Linked DNA regions of Homo sapiens: region 1 is linked to region 2. The links come from fine-mapping of genetic effects on gene expression. Tissue or cell type: whole blood. Region 2 holds a variant in brackets; the other region holds the start of a gene. All regions are shown on one strand. Distances are from middle to middle.

Evidence for each region. PIP is the estimated chance that this variant, and not a neighbour inherited with it, causes the effect.
Region 1: it holds the start of STX10, and the variant in region 2 is fine-mapped to the expression of STX10 in whole blood (INTERVAL, PIP 0.97).

What each region holds. Positions count from the first base shown.
Region 1 is chr19:13,145,626-13,153,797 of GRCh38, reverse strand. It overlaps STX10 (syntaxin 10), which reads left to right and starts at 3,423. Exons shown (of 8, transcript NM_003765.3): 1 at 3,423-3,659; 2 at 3,901-4,070; 3 at 4,205-4,299; 4 at 4,707-4,769. The coding sequence starts at 3,625. It overlaps IER2 (immediate early response 2), which reads right to left and starts at 3,387. Exons shown (of 2, transcript NM_004907.3): 1 at 3,246-3,387; 2 at 1-854. The coding sequence starts at 611. RefSeq lists enhancers at 1-656, 643-972, 3,253-3,322, 3,343-3,542 and silencers at 1,753-2,112, 3,663-3,822, 3,863-3,912.
Region 2 is chr19:13,120,832-13,129,003 of GRCh38, reverse strand. The region is part of intron 1 of NACC1 (nucleus accumbens associated 1); the gene reads right to left. Among named protein-coding and RNA genes, the nearest start is that of NACC1, 6.7 kb to the right of the region's middle. RefSeq lists enhancers at 5,017-5,676, 6,240-6,289 and a silencer at 6,660-6,729. The variant C/T (reference allele first, on the strand shown) is at 4,931.

The DNA.
Region 1 (8,172 bases), 25 kb before region 2:
GGCTTTGCCTCGCACGCGGGCGGCGCCGTCGGAGGGGCCGCGGGGCTGCAGTTCAGGAGGCCGGAGAAGCGCCTCTGCAGGACGCGGGCCAGGTTGGGAAAGGCGCCCTCCGCTTGCGCCGGAGGGGGCTGCAGGCGATCGGCGACTTCGGATGACGCTCCCTCCTCTTCTTCCTTTTCTTCCAGACGGGCTTTCTTGCTCGGGACCAGTCCAGCGTCCCCGCCGTCGCTCAGGCTGCTGCTGCGTCGTTTGCGGCTGACTTTGGCGGGGCGCGGGGCACAGCAGGCGGAGGTCTCCTCGGCTGTCGGCGCCTCCTGCGTGTCCATTGGCTCCGGAAACGGGTGCTCACCGTCGGGGGTCGCTGTCTCGGCCGTGGACTCGGCTTCTCGGGGCGGGTGCAGGCGAGGGTCAGAGGGGAGGGCGGCCGGCAACGACACCTCGGGCTCGAGGGCCTCCACCTTGGCCGAGAGGTAGAGCTCCCGGGCGCTGCGCATGACCAGCGACAGCTGCAGACTCCGGTGCAGCCGCAGGCCACCGCGCTGCATGCGGGAGTGATACATCTTCCACACCGACAGGGTCATGATGCGCTGTGCCTCTTTCTGCACTTCCATGGCGACTCGACGGCGACAGCGGCGGGGGCTCCCGGGAGGGACAGAACAGGCAGCAGGTGCACTCCGGACAACGGGCTCGCTCACGCCTCTCTACACAAACCAACCCACGCAGTGACACTGCTAGGACGCTCTGCCCAGGCGCCCGCCACCCAGGCCCTTTTATACCCCCAGTGACGTCACTGAGACACCCCGCCCAACCGAAGGACGCATCCGGGCTTTCCAACTCGTCGCGGCCAAACACTCCTTAAAGAGACAGAATGCGATTTACCCAGCAGGGAAAGGGGACGGGAACCCTGGCGAGGAGGAGCGTCCCCCGACTCCACGCTGAGCTTTCTGGGTGGGCTCCTTTCTCTGAGCCCCGCCGATGCATCAGCGCCTTGGCCCAAGGGAGGGGGGCCGGGGGTGGAGCTCACGGCCTACCCACATGCTCCCGTCTGGAGGCCCCAGTGGGTCGTGGGCAGCAAGTTTCCCTTCACACAGGGGAAGACCCTGGTTCCAGCCTGAACATCCCCTGTGGCCACTGTTCTTAGCATTTACCAGGTGTGTCTAATGAGTGTTTTCTGCACCAATAATCATGCTAACAGCGCTTACAACGTGCCAGGCTAGGTTAAGAGCTCTCCTTTTATCAATAATTCACCGATCCCCAGCCTCCACTCCTCGGAGGATACTGTTCTATCTGCTTCCTTCAAGTGGGGAAACCAAGGCAGAGTCACTAGGCCAATATTTACTAAACAAACAATATTTGCTACTGCTGTGAAAGGGGGCCACTGGGGCCTCCAGCTCTTCGGTCTCTAGCGTACGCCAGCCCTTGCTTGTAGGCGGTGACCCGCCCCGGGCTACGGGTTCCCGTGATTCGTACCAAGCCATTCCCCCGCAGTTTCCCGCGACAGGAGCTCCACGGGTGGGTTCAGAGCTCGCACGGCTGCGAACCCGGCGCGCACGACAGTCCCCGTGAACACGTGGCTGCCGCCCCCCAAACAAGGGGGCCGAGTTCCGTCTCCGCGTTCGGGGAGGCGGGGTTAGGTTGGGAGCTGGAAACCCAGCAATGCAGAGACAGAGCAGATAGAAAATCTCCGCCCTACCCTCCGCTACGCGCCGTCTCTCCAAGAAATACTAATTCCACTTCCTCCAAAAATAGGATGCAGAATTGTTCGAATGGCTCCATTCATTCCTGGTGCGGGCCCTTTAAGGGGTGGTGCGCCCCCCGCCCCCTTTCCGCCCGCACTGGCTCGCGGCGCCTTCCCGCCACCAGCGCCCGCTGACTTCCACAACTAAATTTGGACGGAGTGACGTAGGGCAGTCGCGCGGGCCGCTTCCGGTTGCCCATATTAGGACAGGGCCCGTGATCGCCTTAGCGGCCGGCGGCGGGGCTTCCGGGGGGGGGGCGCGGAGGGGCGGGGCTTTGCGCTCCGGCCACGCCCCTCCCCATCCCCGACCCGGGCAGCCGGAGCAGGCTGGAGCCCCAGGCTTCCTGACTCGCATTCCAGCCGGGTGGGGGAAGAGGAGAGTTTCACTTCCTTCCCTCCAGGGGCCAGGAAGGCGTGACGCCAGGAAAGCACCCCGCAGCGGGTAGGGGCGACCTGAGGGCTCCCAGGGACGCCATCTCCCAGAGACGCTGCAGAACGACCCTGCATACACAGGAGACGACCCGCTGAGGCCCCCTTCATCCCATCTCTCCTCTTCCCAATTATTTCCCCCATACAAGGCCCCCTCCCAGGTTATTCCTGACCCCTGCCCCACACTGATCTTCTCAGGCCTTGGGACACCCTCCCGTCCCGCCCTTCCCCCGCACGCTGGGAACTCAAAAGTTATTCCCCCCTAAAATACCCTTCCCAAACTCGTCCCCATTCAACGATGGTGCCAGACTGCGACGACCTGCCGAAGACGCAGGCCGTCCCCACCCCGCTAACCTTACCACGGAGACCCCACAATGATTTCCCCAGCCCAGGCGCTATCTCTGAGACCCCACGCAGCAACTCTGACGCGCAAGGGGGCGACCCTCCGAGGACTCCCTCAGATAACCCGCCCACCCTCCAGGGGAGACCAGGCCCCCTATCACTCAAAAAAAGTGCTTTCCCGAAGCTCCCCAACACACAGCGCCACTGTCACACATAGGGACGACCCTGAGTCCCTCCGCTGATATTCCTGGCCCCTACCCAGACGGAGACCCCACACACAGAGGGCCCCCCTGGAGACCATCCTCAAAGCCACCACCCGCTACCCCCAGGCTCGCACCCAGAAAGACTCCGCGCTTCTGAAGAAACCCACCTCCACGCACTTTCTCAAAGGTGACCTCCCCCCGCTGCTGGCATATCTGGGACCCCCTCACGACCACCTCGCCCCAAGGCGACCTCGAAGTGCCCCCAACTCCGCCACTTCTCAGGAAAGAGATTGGGAGAATGCGGCAGAACTCCCCGGAGGAGCAGGCCCGCTCCTCACCGCGCCCCCGCAGGGAGAAGGGAGGACCACCTCTCCCCCAGACCCTAGCCAAACCTGACACTCGGGACCCTGGGATGGGACGATCTCCCAGGTGCCAGCTCAGGGAGTCCATGAAAAGCTTCAACGAATCGAATGAGCCCCTTCCCCAGCCATAATACCCAGCCGCCAGAGATGAGGGAGGCTATCATTATTTACATTGCCCGTGCCTGGAAGGGAAACTGAAGTTGCGCAGGAACAATCCGAGGAACTGGGCCTTGAACCGAAATTCCGAACTCGGACCCGAATAGGCCCAGACAGAACTCCGACACCGCCCCCTACGGTGCGGCACGAGAGGGCTAAGGGGCGGGGGCATGTGCACCGGAAGCTGCCTCTGCCCACAACCAAGATGGCTGAGGAGAGGGCGGAAGTGTCCGCACGTCGGGCCTCCGAGGCTTCTCTTTCTCCCCTGGCGGTCCGGCTCTCGATGGTGGCGTGACGGGGGCGGGGGTGGCGGCGCGTTCTCCTCGGTTGGGAGGGAACCAGCCCGCGAACCCAGGCCGGGAGGGGGGTTCGGCCTGGGGGGGAAGGGACTGACATGTCTCTCGAAGACCCCTTTTTTGTAGTCCGAGGGTGAGTGACAACGACGGGGGAGGGCGGAGGGTGCTCTGTACCCAAGCCAGCCAGTGCCCGGGTGCCGGCCCCAGCGTGCCCGGCGGGCTGGGCAAGGCCGTCGGGGTGCAGAGTGGGAGGCGCACGCAGGGGTATATAGGGGTCTCCGGAGTCCCCCATGCGTTTGGGTTTGCAGTCGGGGGCAGAGGCAGGCGGGAGGACCGCCTGCCCCCAGCCGCGCCCGCCGTGCCCCTGCCCGCAGCGAGGTGCAGAAGGCGGTGAACACGGCCCGCGGGCTGTACCAGCGCTGGTGCGAGCTCCTGCAGGAAAGCGCGGCGGTCGGACGCGAGGAGCTGGACTGGACGACCAATGAGCTGCGGAATGGCCTGCGCAGCATCGAGTGGGACCTCGAGGACCTGGAAGAGACCATCGATATCCTGGGGCTTTGTGGCAGAGGGTGGCATGGGAGAGCCCATTGCGGTGGCAGCCCACCTTCGGGTAGGGCTGGACCCCTAGGGACGGGGATGATATCTGGCTCCGGCCTTGACCCTTGACTCTCAGCCCACGTATAGTGGAAGCCAACCCAGGCAAGTTCAAGCTCCCAGCCGGGGACCTGCAGGAGAGAAAGGTGTTCGTGGAGCGGATGCGAGAGGCAGTCCAGGTCAGGAAAGGTCCTGCAGGCGGGGAGTGGGGGAAGGTTTGAGTGTGTTTTTTTTTCTTTCTTTCTTTCTTTTTTTTTTTTTTTTTTGAGACAGAGCCTCGCTCTGTCGCCCAGGCTGGAGTACAGTGTTGCAATCTCGGCTCACTGCAACCTCCGCCTCCCAGGCTCAAGCGATTCTTGTGTCTCAGTCTCCTGAGTAGCTGGGACTACAGGTGCCTGCCACGATACCCGGCTAAGTTTTGTGTTTTTAGTAGAGACGGGGTTTCACCATGTTGATCAGGCTGGTCTCGAACTCCTGACCTCAGGTGATCCACCCGGCTTGGTCTCTCAAAGTGCTAGGATTACAGGCGTGAGCCACCGCGCCCAGCCTGAGTGTCTTTCCTCCCTAATGCTGTCCTTACCTCCAGGAAATGAAGGACCATATGGTCAGCCCAACAGCCGTAGCATTTTTGGAGAGGAATAACAGAGAGGTAAGCCTTCCTGACCCACCCTGCCCACCTGAGCCCCTGGGGGTAACCAAGCCAGATCCCTCTGTGCGTGTTCACCTGTCCCTTTTGCGACAGTGCCCGTCCTCTCTGTGGGCAGTTATCTTCTTGCTGTCTACCTGCCTGCACTTTCTCGGTGTGTGCACCTGAACCTCTCTATGTGTATATGTCCGTGGGTTCCTCTCTACTGTGTCCTCTGGGTCTATACTGGTTTCCTGTTGCAGGAGAGGGCTGGGGGCCTGTGTACCTATCTCCTTTCTGCTTCCATGCCATTTGTCCTGTGTGCACCTGTTTCCAGGACGCATGCCTGCCTTTTACTCTTTTTTTTTTCTTTGAGACAGAGTCTTGTTCTGTTGCCCAGGCTGGAGTGCAGTGGCTTGATCTCAGCTCACTGCAACCTCTGCCTCCTGGGTTCAAGCGATTCTCCTGCCTCAGCCTCCCAAGTAGCTGGGATTACAGGTGCTCGTCACCATGCCAGGGTAACTTCTGTATTTTTTTTTTTTTTTTTTTGAGATGGAGTTTCACTCTTGTTGCCCAGGCTGGAGTGCAATGGTGCAATCTCGGCTCACCGCAATCTCCGCCTCCTGGGTTCAAACAATTCTCCTGCCTCAGCCTCCCGAGTAGCTGGGATTATAGGCATACGCCACCATGCCTGGCTAATTTTGTATTTTTAGTAGAGACGGGGTTTCTCCATGTTGGTCAGGCTGATCTTGAACTCCCAACCTCAGGTGATCCACCTGCCTCAGCCTCCCAAAGTGCTGGAATTACAGGCATGAGCCACTGCGCCTGGCCTAATTTTTGTATTTTTAATAGGGTTTTGTCATGTTGGTCAGTCTGGTCTCAAACCCCTCACATCAACTGATCTGCCTGCCTCAGCCTTCCAAAGTGCTGGGATTACAGGCGTGAGCCATCGCACATAACTTCCTTTTTTTTTTTTTTTTTTTTTTTTTTGAGATGCAGTCTCACTCTGTTGCCAGGCTGGAGTGCAGTGGCGCAGTCTCGGCTCACTGCAACCTCCGCCTCCTGGGCTCAACGATTCTCCAGCCTCAGCCTCCTGAGTAGCTGTAATACAGGCACATGCCACCACACCCGGCTAATTTTTTTTTTTTTTTTTTTTTTTGAGACGGAGTGTTGCTCTGTCGCCCAGGCTGGAGTGCAGTGACGTGATCTCGGCTCACTGCAGCCTCCGCCTCCCGGGTTCAAGCAATTCTGTCTCAGCCTCCCGAGTAGCTGGGATTACAGGCACCCACCACCATGCGTGGCTAAATTTTGTATTTCTAGTAGAGACGGGGCTTCAACATCTTGGCCAGGCTGGTCTTGAACTCTTGACCTCGTGATCCACCTGCCTCGGCCTCCCAAAGTGCTGGGATTACAGGTGTGAGCCACCACGCCCGGCCAATTTTTGTATTTTTAGTAGAGACGGAGTTTCATCATGTTGGCCAGGATGGTCTTGATCTCCTGACCTTGTGATCCACTAGCTTCAGCCTCCCAAAATGCTGAGATTACAGGCGTGAGCCACCGCGCCCGGCCAGCTTCCTTTTTTTTTTTTGAGATGGAGTCTTGGCATGTTGCCCAGGCTGGGGTGCAGTGGTGCAATCTTGACTCACTGAAACCTCCACCTTCCGGGTTCAAGCAATTCTCCTGCCTCAGCCTCCTGGGTAGCTGGGACAACAGGAGTGTGCCACCATGCCCAGCTAATTTTTGTGTTTTTAGTAGAGACAGGGTTTCCCCATGTTGGCCAGGCTGGTCTCAAACTCCCTACCTCAGGTGATCCGCCCCCGCCTTTTCATCTGTGCATGCACCTAACCTATTTGGGTGCGTGCACTTGGCCTCTGAGTGTATCTGCATTTTCCCCCCTCATATCCTAATATCTGCTAGTTTCCTCTGTAATGTGCCTGCCGTGTGTGTGTGTGTGTGTGTGTGTGTGTGTGTGTTTCTGTGTTTCTCCCAACCACCTCTGTCAGTCCACTTTTTCTCTTGGTGTTCTCTGTTGATATTTTTCATATGTTGAGAACCACCAGCCTTTCTCTCTCCCTCATAAGCGTACGTGGGGTCGGGGAGGGTGGGGGACTGAGGCTCCTCCCAGTTTGTCATCCCATAGCAGTGCCCACGTGCCTTCCAGATGTGCTGCCTTGGGGGAATTCAAGTCCAAACTCTAAAATACATCTGTTGGAGCCGGGCACGGTGGCTCACACCTAAAATCTCAGCACTTTGGGAGGCCCAGGCAAGTGGATCACCTGAGGTCAGGCGTTCGAGACCAGCCTGGCCAACATGATGAAACCCTGTCTCTACAAAAAATACAAAAATTAGCCAGGCGTGGTGGTGATCACCTGTAATCTCAGATACTTGGGAAGCTGAGGCAGGAGAATTGCTTGAACCCGGGAGGTGGAGGTTGCAGTGAGGCGAGATCACACCACTGCACTCCAGCCTAGGTGACAGAGCAAGACTCTGTCTCAGACAAACAAACAAACATCTGTTGGGCCAGGCATGGTAGCTCACGCCTGTAATCCCAGCACTTTGGGAGGCTGAGGCAGGTGGATCACTTGAGGTCAGGAGTTCGAGACCAGCCTGGCCAACATGGGGAAACCCTATCACTAGTAAAAATACAAAAATTAGCTGGATGTGGTGGCAGGTGCCTGTAATCCCAGCTAAAATCCCCCCAAAAATAAACAAATAGTAAAATGTGACATTTACTAGCATTACTATGTGTTGGGCACTGCTGTAAGTGTCCCCCATCAATTAATTCTTTAAATCCTCATTTCAACCCAGGAAACACGGATTCTAGCTCTTCCCATTTTATTTTATTTTTTTTTTTTTTGAGGCAAGGTCACTCTGACACCCAGGCTGGAAATGCAGTGGTGCGATCTCAGCTCACTGCAACCACCGCCCCCCAGGTTCAAGCGATTCTGCTGCCTTAGCCTCACAAGTAGCTGGGATTACAGGCATGCACTGCCACACCCGGTAATTTTTTTTTTTTTTTTTTTTTTTGAGAGAAGGTCTTAACCTGTCACCCAGGCTGGAGTGCAGTGGTGTGATCTCGGCTCACTGCAACCTCAGCCTCCCAGGTTCAAGTGATTCTGACCTGCCTCAGCCTCCCTAGTAGCTGGGATTACAGGCACCCGCCACCAAGCCTGGCTAATTTTTGTATTTTTAGTAGAGACGGGATTTCACCATGTTGGCCAGGCTGCTCTCAAACTCTTGACCTCGTGATCCATCTACCTCGGCCTCCCAAAGTGCTGGGATTACAGGTGTGAGCCACTGTGCCCGGCCCAATTTTTGTATTTTTAGTAGAGATGGGGTTTCACCATGTTGGCCAGGCTGGTCTCGAGCTCCTGACCTCAAGTTATCTGCCCACCTCCACCTCCCAGAGTGCTGGGATTACAAGCAT
Region 2 (8,172 bases):
AAGGGCAGAAAACCATATGAGAATCATCTCTCCTTAAAATTCAGCATATCAGCACCCCTGAGGGTGTGGGGGACAAGGGCAGGAGGCCACAGGGCAGCTGGGACCTTCCTGGCCAGGACAGTGCCTAGTCCTGGCCCTGGGCCTGAGCAGATCTTCTGGTGAGACCCAAGGGCACAGCACACGGTTTCCATGACTTCCCAACAACTACTCAATAAATATTTGCCAGGTCCCTGCCTGGGCAGGCCACAATGGTGACAAAGTAGCCCTGCCTCTGGAGCTCACAGTCCAGCAGGAGACAGGGCCATTCATCCTTGGTCACACAGATCAATGTGCTACACACTGGGGTGCCTGACCTTGCCCAGAAGGGGTGACACTGGAGCTGAGATCTAGGAAGGGCAGTAGTGGATGGGGAGTGTGGCCCTTCCAGAAAGGGTTTTCACCTCCAGGGGACTGGGCTCAGTCTCAGGGCTCTGCTATGGACAAAGTATGTCCCTCCAAATTCACAGATTGAAACTCTGAGCCCCAATGTGCCTGTATCTGGAGATAAAACCTTTGGGAGCTAATTAAGGTTAATTGAGGTCATAACGGTGGTATTAAGAAGGCAGCTGTCTGCAAGCCATGAAGAGAGCCCTCACCAGAACCTGACCACGCTGGCACTCTCATCTAGACTGCCAGCCCCCAGCACTCTGAAATATAAATGTCTGTTGTTTAAGCCACCCAGTCTGTGATATTTTGTTGTGTGGCAGCTTGAGCTGACTAAGACAGGCCTGAAGCACCATCTATTCACTGATGCCTCCCCCACTGGAGTCTTTGGCCCGGACTTCCCTGTGAATGCCAGACTCGCACACACCCCAGACACCTCCACTCAACAATTTCAGGACCTGGCTCCAGTCCTTCCCAAAACCTGTGAATGCCGTAGCTTCACCAGCTCTGGCCCTCCTCATTCAGATCCTTGGATTCATCTTCAACTCCTTCAAAACCACTTTGTACTACCTTGGCCCCAAGTGACACTGCCTGGGCCCCTACAATGCTTTATTGGGGCCCCTGGCAGTCTGGCCCTGCTTGCTCTCGGACCTACTAGAATGGGAATGGGACAGCCATAGCTCTTCATACTCTCCCTGGTCACATAAAGCCCTTTCTCTACTCTTTTGCTTTTGGAGACAGGGCCTTGCTCTGTCACCCAGGCTGGAGTACAGTGGCACCATCATAGCTCACTTCAGCCTCAAACTCCTGGGCTCAAGCAATCCTCCCACCTCAGCTTCCCAAATAGCTGGGACCACAGGAGCTACATCCAGCTAATTTTTTTTTTTCTTTTTTTTTTTGAGGCAGAGTCTCGCTCTGTCGCCCAGGCTGGAGTGCAGTGGTGGGATCTCGGCTCACTGCAAGAATCGTTCAAGCGATTCTCCTGTCTCAGCCTCCTGAGTAGCTGGGATTAAAGGTAACCACCACCATGCCTGGCTAATTTTTCTATTTTTAGTAGAGATGGGGTTTCACCATGTTGGCCAGGCTGGTCTTGAACTCCTGACCTCAAGTGATCCGCCCACCTCCCAAAGTGCTGGGATTACAGGCGTGAGCCACGGCACCCGGCCCATCCAGTTAACCGAAAAAAAAAAAAAAAAAAAAAAAAAAAAAGTATATGTATATGTATGCTTTTTTTTTTTTTTTTTTTTGGTAGAGACGTGATCTCACTATATTGCCTGGGCTGGTCTCCAACTCCCAGCTGAGTGTTCCTCCTGCCACAGCCTCACAAAACCCTGCGATTATAGGCATGAGCCACTGCGTCTGACCAACAAAGCCCTTCCCGACACTAACTCCCTGGCTTGATTCTCCCTGCTTGACTTATCCTTCTTGGGAGTTCCTATGATTTATTTAGCAAGCTGGCCATTTTTCTTTTTCTAAAAAAAAATTATTTATTTGTGCATTTTTTAGTAATAGAGACGAGGTCTCCCTAATGTTGCCCAGGCTGGTCTCAAACTCCTGGGCTCAAGTGGTCCTCCTGCCTTGGCCTCCCAAAGTGCTCGGACTACAGGTGCGAGCCACCACCCCTGCCAAACTGGGCATTTTTTGGGGCTTCATGTCAGTTTCCCTGGGGCAGGGAGTTTGCCTGTGTAGATCCCTGTTGTGTCCTCTACCCCTAGGACCTGGCCAGGTACACAGTGGGTGCTCACAGTCCTTCGTGGAAAAAATGAACAAAGAATTACTTCCATTCCTCCTAACCTAACTCCCTGTTTTGTTCCACATTAACGTGGCTCAAACAGGAATAGGGCTCAGAAGCATTATCTGTGGCTGGGCAGACAGACGACCTCCTTTGACAGCTGCCAAGGTGGGTAGCCAGCAGTCAGGGGCCTATTGAGACCGCAGTGTTACCTGACGAATTGCTCACACTGCCGGTGGATCCTGCCATCTGCAGGAAGGGGGCTGGCAGGATGATTCCTGGGAGTAGTAACTGTCAGCTCTTAGGGAAGAGAGCTGAGGAATTCCCCAGCCAGCATGGGCCTGTGAGAGACTGTCAAAGGCACAGTCCTTTCCTGATGTCTTTCCAGGGAAGCTGTGACATGGCCGTCGACAGATGCTATGGTCTGAATGTTTGCCTCTTCCCAAAATTCACATGCTAAAGCCTATCTCCAATGTAGTGGTATTAAGAAGTGGGGCTGGCTGGGCACGGTGACTCACGCCTGTAACCCCAGCACTTTGGGAGGCTGAGGAGGGCGGATCACGAGGTCACGAGGTCAGGAGATAGAGACCATCCTGGCTAACATGGTGAAACCCCATCTCTACTAAAAATACAAAAAATTAGCCAGGCACAGTGGTACGTGCCTGTAATCCCAGCTACTCGGGAGGCTGAGGCAGGAGAATCGCTTGAACTCAGGAGGCGAAGGTTGCGGTGAGCCGAGATCGGGCCAATGCACTCCAGCCTGGTGACAGAGCAAGACTCCGTCTAAAAAAAAAAAAAAAGTTAGGCCTTTCAGCCAGGTATGGTGGTTCACGCCTGTAATCTCAGCACTTTGGGAGGCCGAGGTGGGCGGATCACCTGAGGTCAGGAGTTGGAGACTAGCCTGGCCAATATGGTGAAACCCCATCTCTACTAAAAATACAAAAATTAGCTGGGCGCAGTGGTGCACGCCTGTAATCCCAGCTATTAGGTAGGCTGAGGCAGAATTGCTTGAACCTAGGAGGTGGAAGTTGCAGCGAGCCAAGATCACGCCACTGCACTCTAGGCTGGGCAACAGAGCAAGACTCCATCTCAAAATAAAAAAGAAGTTGTTGATCAAAAATTTAAAAAGGGCTGGGTGCAGTGGCTCACGCCTGTAATCCCAGCACTTTGGGAGGCAGAGACAGGCGGATTACCTGAGATCAGGAGTTCGAGATCAGCCTGGGCAACACAGTGAAACCCCGTCTCTACTAAAAATACAAAATTAGCCTGGCATGCTGACACATGCCTGTAATCCCAGCTACTTGGGAGGCTGAGGCAGGAGAATCGCTTGAACCTGGGAGGCGGAGGATGCGGTGAGTCAAGATCGCACCACTGCACTCCAGCCTGGGCAACAAGAGTAAATCTCCGTCTCACCAAAAAAAAAAAAAAAAAAAAAAGTGGGGCCTTCGGGAGTTGATTCAGTCAGGAGGGCTCTGTCCTCATGAATACGAACTGTGCCCGTATAAAAGAGGGGGAGCTTGTTTGTCCTTGCCACCCTGTGCAGATACCTAAAAGGTGCTATCTATGAGAGATGGGCCCTCACTAGACACGGAATCTGCTAGCACCGTGATATGGGACTTCCCACCCTCTACAACTATGAGCAGCTCATCTCTGTTGTTTATCAATGGCCCAGTCTGTTTTGTTTTTTTGAGACAGGGTCTTGCTCTGTCACCCAGGCTGAAGCGTAGTGGTGCAATCTTGGATCACTATAGCGTCAAACTCCTGGGCTCAAGTTATCCTCTCACCTCAGCCTCCTGAGTAGCTGGGACTAGGGATGTGTGCCACCACGCCCGGCTAATTAAAACAATTTTTTGCAAAGACGAGAGACATATGTTCTCAGGACCTCCTGAGGGCTGTGTCACGGGTGAAAAACAAATTAAAATTAAATTTTTTTGTAAAGATGAGGTCTCACTATGTTGCCCAGGCTGGTCTCGAACTCCTGGGCTCAAGCAATCCTCCCATCTCAGCCTCCTAAATGCTGAGGTTAGAGGCATGAGCAATGTGCCTGGCTTCCAGTCTAAGGTATTTTATTACAGCAGCCCAGATGGGCTAAGACCTACAAGCCAGTTAAGGGAGACCAGCAACTCCAAGTGTAACAAGGAACAAAGGCCCCAGAGAGCCCCACAGTCCTTCATGCAGCTCAGCAGGATGTGGCTGGATCCTGGCAGCTACTCAGGTTGCCTGCCTGACCCAGAACCAGAAAGACCCCTCTGTAGGGGCTGAATGTGAAGGCAGTCCAGGAAAACAGTTAGTGAAGAACAAACTGTTCAGTGGGGGGCGGTGACTCCTACCTGTAATCCCAGAACTTCGGGAGGCTGAGGCAGGAAGACGCTTGAAGCCAGGAGTTTGAGACCAGCCTGGGCAATACAGCAAGACCTCATCTTGCATCAGTATTTTTTTTTCTTTTTTGTTGAGACAGTCTTCCTCTGTCGCCCAGGCTGGAGTACAGTGGCGTGATTTCGGCTAACTGCAACCTCCGCCTCCTGGGTTCAAGCAATTCTCGTGCCTCCGCCTCCTGAGTAGCTAGGATTACAGGCACACACCACCATGCCTGGCTAATTTTTGTATTTTTAGTAGAGACTGGGTTTCTCCATGTTGGCCAGGCTGGTCTCAAAACTCCTGGCCTCAAGTGATCCGCCCACCTCAGCCTCCCAAAGAGCTGGGATTACAGGCGTGAGCCACTGCACCTGGCCTGTATTTTTTTTCTTATACACCCACAGATTTAATTCGTTATCT[C/T]TTTCCCTGAATGACTATTGTTAAATCCATGGTGGAATAGGATTAGTAACAGTGTCCCCTACTCAAGCCTCACTGACTGGGCCCATACCTGGCCAGGGCTCAGACAGGCTCATTTAACTTACTCTTCTTTACAGTTTCTGAGGAAGAAATGAGCCTGCCTGCCATTTCATGGATGGGAATGAGGCCCAGAGAGGTGAAGCCAGAGGTGGGGAACATGTAGCTGGTGAATGGCAGGCACAGGTTTATACCCAGGCCGTCTGGCTCCCGAATCAGGCAAAAATGTGAGGCAGCTGTGACTAGACCCATTTCACAGGTGGGAAAACTGGTGTTCAGAGAAGCAAGGCAGAGACCAGACGGGAACCCCGGACCGGCCGAGCCCAGAGCTGGGGCTCTTTACCTGAGCTACTGGATGTGTCCTCTCCAGAAACAGGGTCTTCTGCCTGTCTGAGGACCTCCACCTCAGGGTCTGGGGTGCCCTCTCTCTAATCCCCAAGGAAGGCCTTCTTCATTCTTTTCATTCTTCCTTTCCCAATCCTCCCAACTGCAGCTATTCTCTAGCCCCTTCTCCCTGCAACCACCATCTCCGGGAATGAGCAGTCTCCGCGTGCTGCCTCTCCCTCCTCCCACTCGCTCCTCCTCGCAGCCCTCGGCAATCTGGCCTCCCTTTGCAGGCAGCAGCTCCAGCTCCTTGGAGAGCCTGGCAGAAGCTCTGCCTCCGTCCTCATGGAGCTCGCAGCCTGCCCGCTCCCTCCCCACCAACTCCAACCATAAGCCCACCCTTCGGAGTTACATCCCACTCCCTGCGTGTAATCAGATCATACCCAAAAGACAGGGCAGCAGTGGCGGCAACCAAGGGTGGAGGGAACAACAGTAAGTGCAAAGGCCCTGAGGTGACCCTGGTGCCGCTAACACAAAGGAGGGTGGAGGGATGGGGATCATCCTGGGAGAGGGGCCTGCTGGGCTGTGCTAGGGAACCACGCAGGACCTAAGATTTTGAATCCTACTATTGTACTAGGCTCAAATCCCTTATAGAGCTTGTCACTCAGAATTACCCTCAATACTGCTCACCCCCCATATCAGTCTCCCATCTAGAAAATGGGCTGACAGCAGCAGCCACCTCACAAGGCTATTTCAAGGATTAAACAACCAAAGAACACAGGCCGATCGGCGCTCGCCCCGTAGTCGGTGCTCATGAATGCCAGCTGCTGTTAGTCGTATCCCCTGGCCCCGTGCTGGGCCGCAAACTCCCTGGGAGTAGAAGACATCTTATGCCTCTCACCATCTCCCAGACCTCGCACATTTCATGGGATTAACAGGCAGTGATCGCTGGGGTTTTCCCCAGAGCCTTCACAGCACTGTCCACTCACACCCCAGACGCCAACCTCTCCCGCAAACCTCATGATAACCAGACAGTGGAGATTCCCCACCCAGCCACTGCATTTGCGTCAATCATTCTTTGTGGTGGGGGCTGCCCTACACACTGTCTGATGTTGAACCGCATCCCTGGCCTATAAACCCACTAGATGCCAGCAGCACACCCCCCCCCCCCCGGCAGGGGCAACCAAAAATGTCCCCAGACATTCCCCAAGTGTCCCCGGAGGTAGGACTGTACCCAGTTGCGAATCACAGCAGTATAGTTGTGCCCACTTGTCACTCCTTATCAGAGGAGGACACTGAGGCTCAGAGGTAAAGACCTTTGCCCAGAGTCTCATGGCTGAGACAGGGGTGGTGCTAAGTGTGAAATTTCACTCTCTACTAGACCGTGTCTGCTCACCCTTACCTACCCTCTCCCTTTGCTCGATTTAGAAACCACGAACTGGACACAGTCAAAGCCCTCAGAGAAGACGCACAGGTCTCTAAGAACTGAGACCTTCGCCAAGGAGGCAGCACATGAGAAGGCTGGAGGGACATGACCACAACCACACACAGATCACAACCTAAGACACGTCACCTCTGCCGGCTCGGCTGGTCCTCACCCCACCTAATGTGCAAGCAGGCCCAGTCCCACCTCCCGGCCCCACCTCATGCGGCCCAGAGGGTTCTCTAGGGGAAGGCAGTAGCGGCTGAGAGGACTGAGGAGCAAATGCAGACACGAGGAACATGAAAGTGGCTGGAAGGCGGCACAGGGGTGGTAGCCAGACCACTTTGCAGCTTGTGTGAAGGAAGGACTAGGGTGCCTCAGTTGCCTTGTGTGTCAAATGATGATAACAGGCAGGACCTGCTAGCCACGGGCTTAAATGAGTTCGAGTGTGTACAAGTGCTGAGAGCAACCTAGGAGGAGAAACGAGGGGCACGGAGGATCTGAGGACGCAGAGTGGCATGAACACTGACTCATGTTTTCCAGCCCCGGTGGCTCACCACCATCCCAAAAGCAATATGCCCCACCAAGCCTGATGGGATCCCTCTCTCCACACAGGCTCTGGCAATGACACTGATGAAATCTAGGGTCAGACAATGTTGGGCCAACCCCAAACTCTCTCCAAACCCCCGGGCCTCCAGGCAGACTCCTTCAATAGACCCTGTAAGGCTGACCAAAACTCACATCTCCTCAAAGCCCAGCTCAAGAACCTGCTGGGGCTCCCTGCTGCCCGGCCAGGAGGCCAGATTTTTTAAATACCCTAGATGCAGGCCAAGGGGTTCTGAACTTCCATCTGGGGGTGATGGGCAGATCCAGGAGACCCAGAGACAGGGCTTCACTCTCTTGTGAATGGTACTAGAGTCTCTGTCTCCACAGTAGGGTCATCCCCCCACTCCTTCCCTCATGAAGACAAAATGTTTAGAGCACTCAGAAGAAGACTGGTACATACTCAAGAAAAGCTGTGAATGTGCTGTCCCCTGAGCCTAGAACACTGACCCCTCCCTGCGCCCCAGCACCACCCACCCCTTAGCTAACATTATTATTCAGATCTTAGCTCTCCGGGAACACTTCCGGCCACCCATCGAAACCTCCCCATCCCCTCATGGCTCATAATGACTTCACTTTGCTACACCATCTTTGTAAACACAGAAGTATGTGAAATTATCTTGATCCTTTGCTTGTGAAAGTTTGGTCGCTTGAGAGCTAGCTGCTCTGGATCTGTTACTCCGGGATGCTTCCCCAGCCCCCAGCGGGGAGTCAGCACCCAGCAGTGAAATAAAACTGTCTCAACGGGCTGCCTACTTGTTGCACTTGCCCCCACAGAGTCTGTGCATGCTAAGTTCTCACCGAAAAGCAGTTATTACTGGTGCCTTCTCCTCTACCT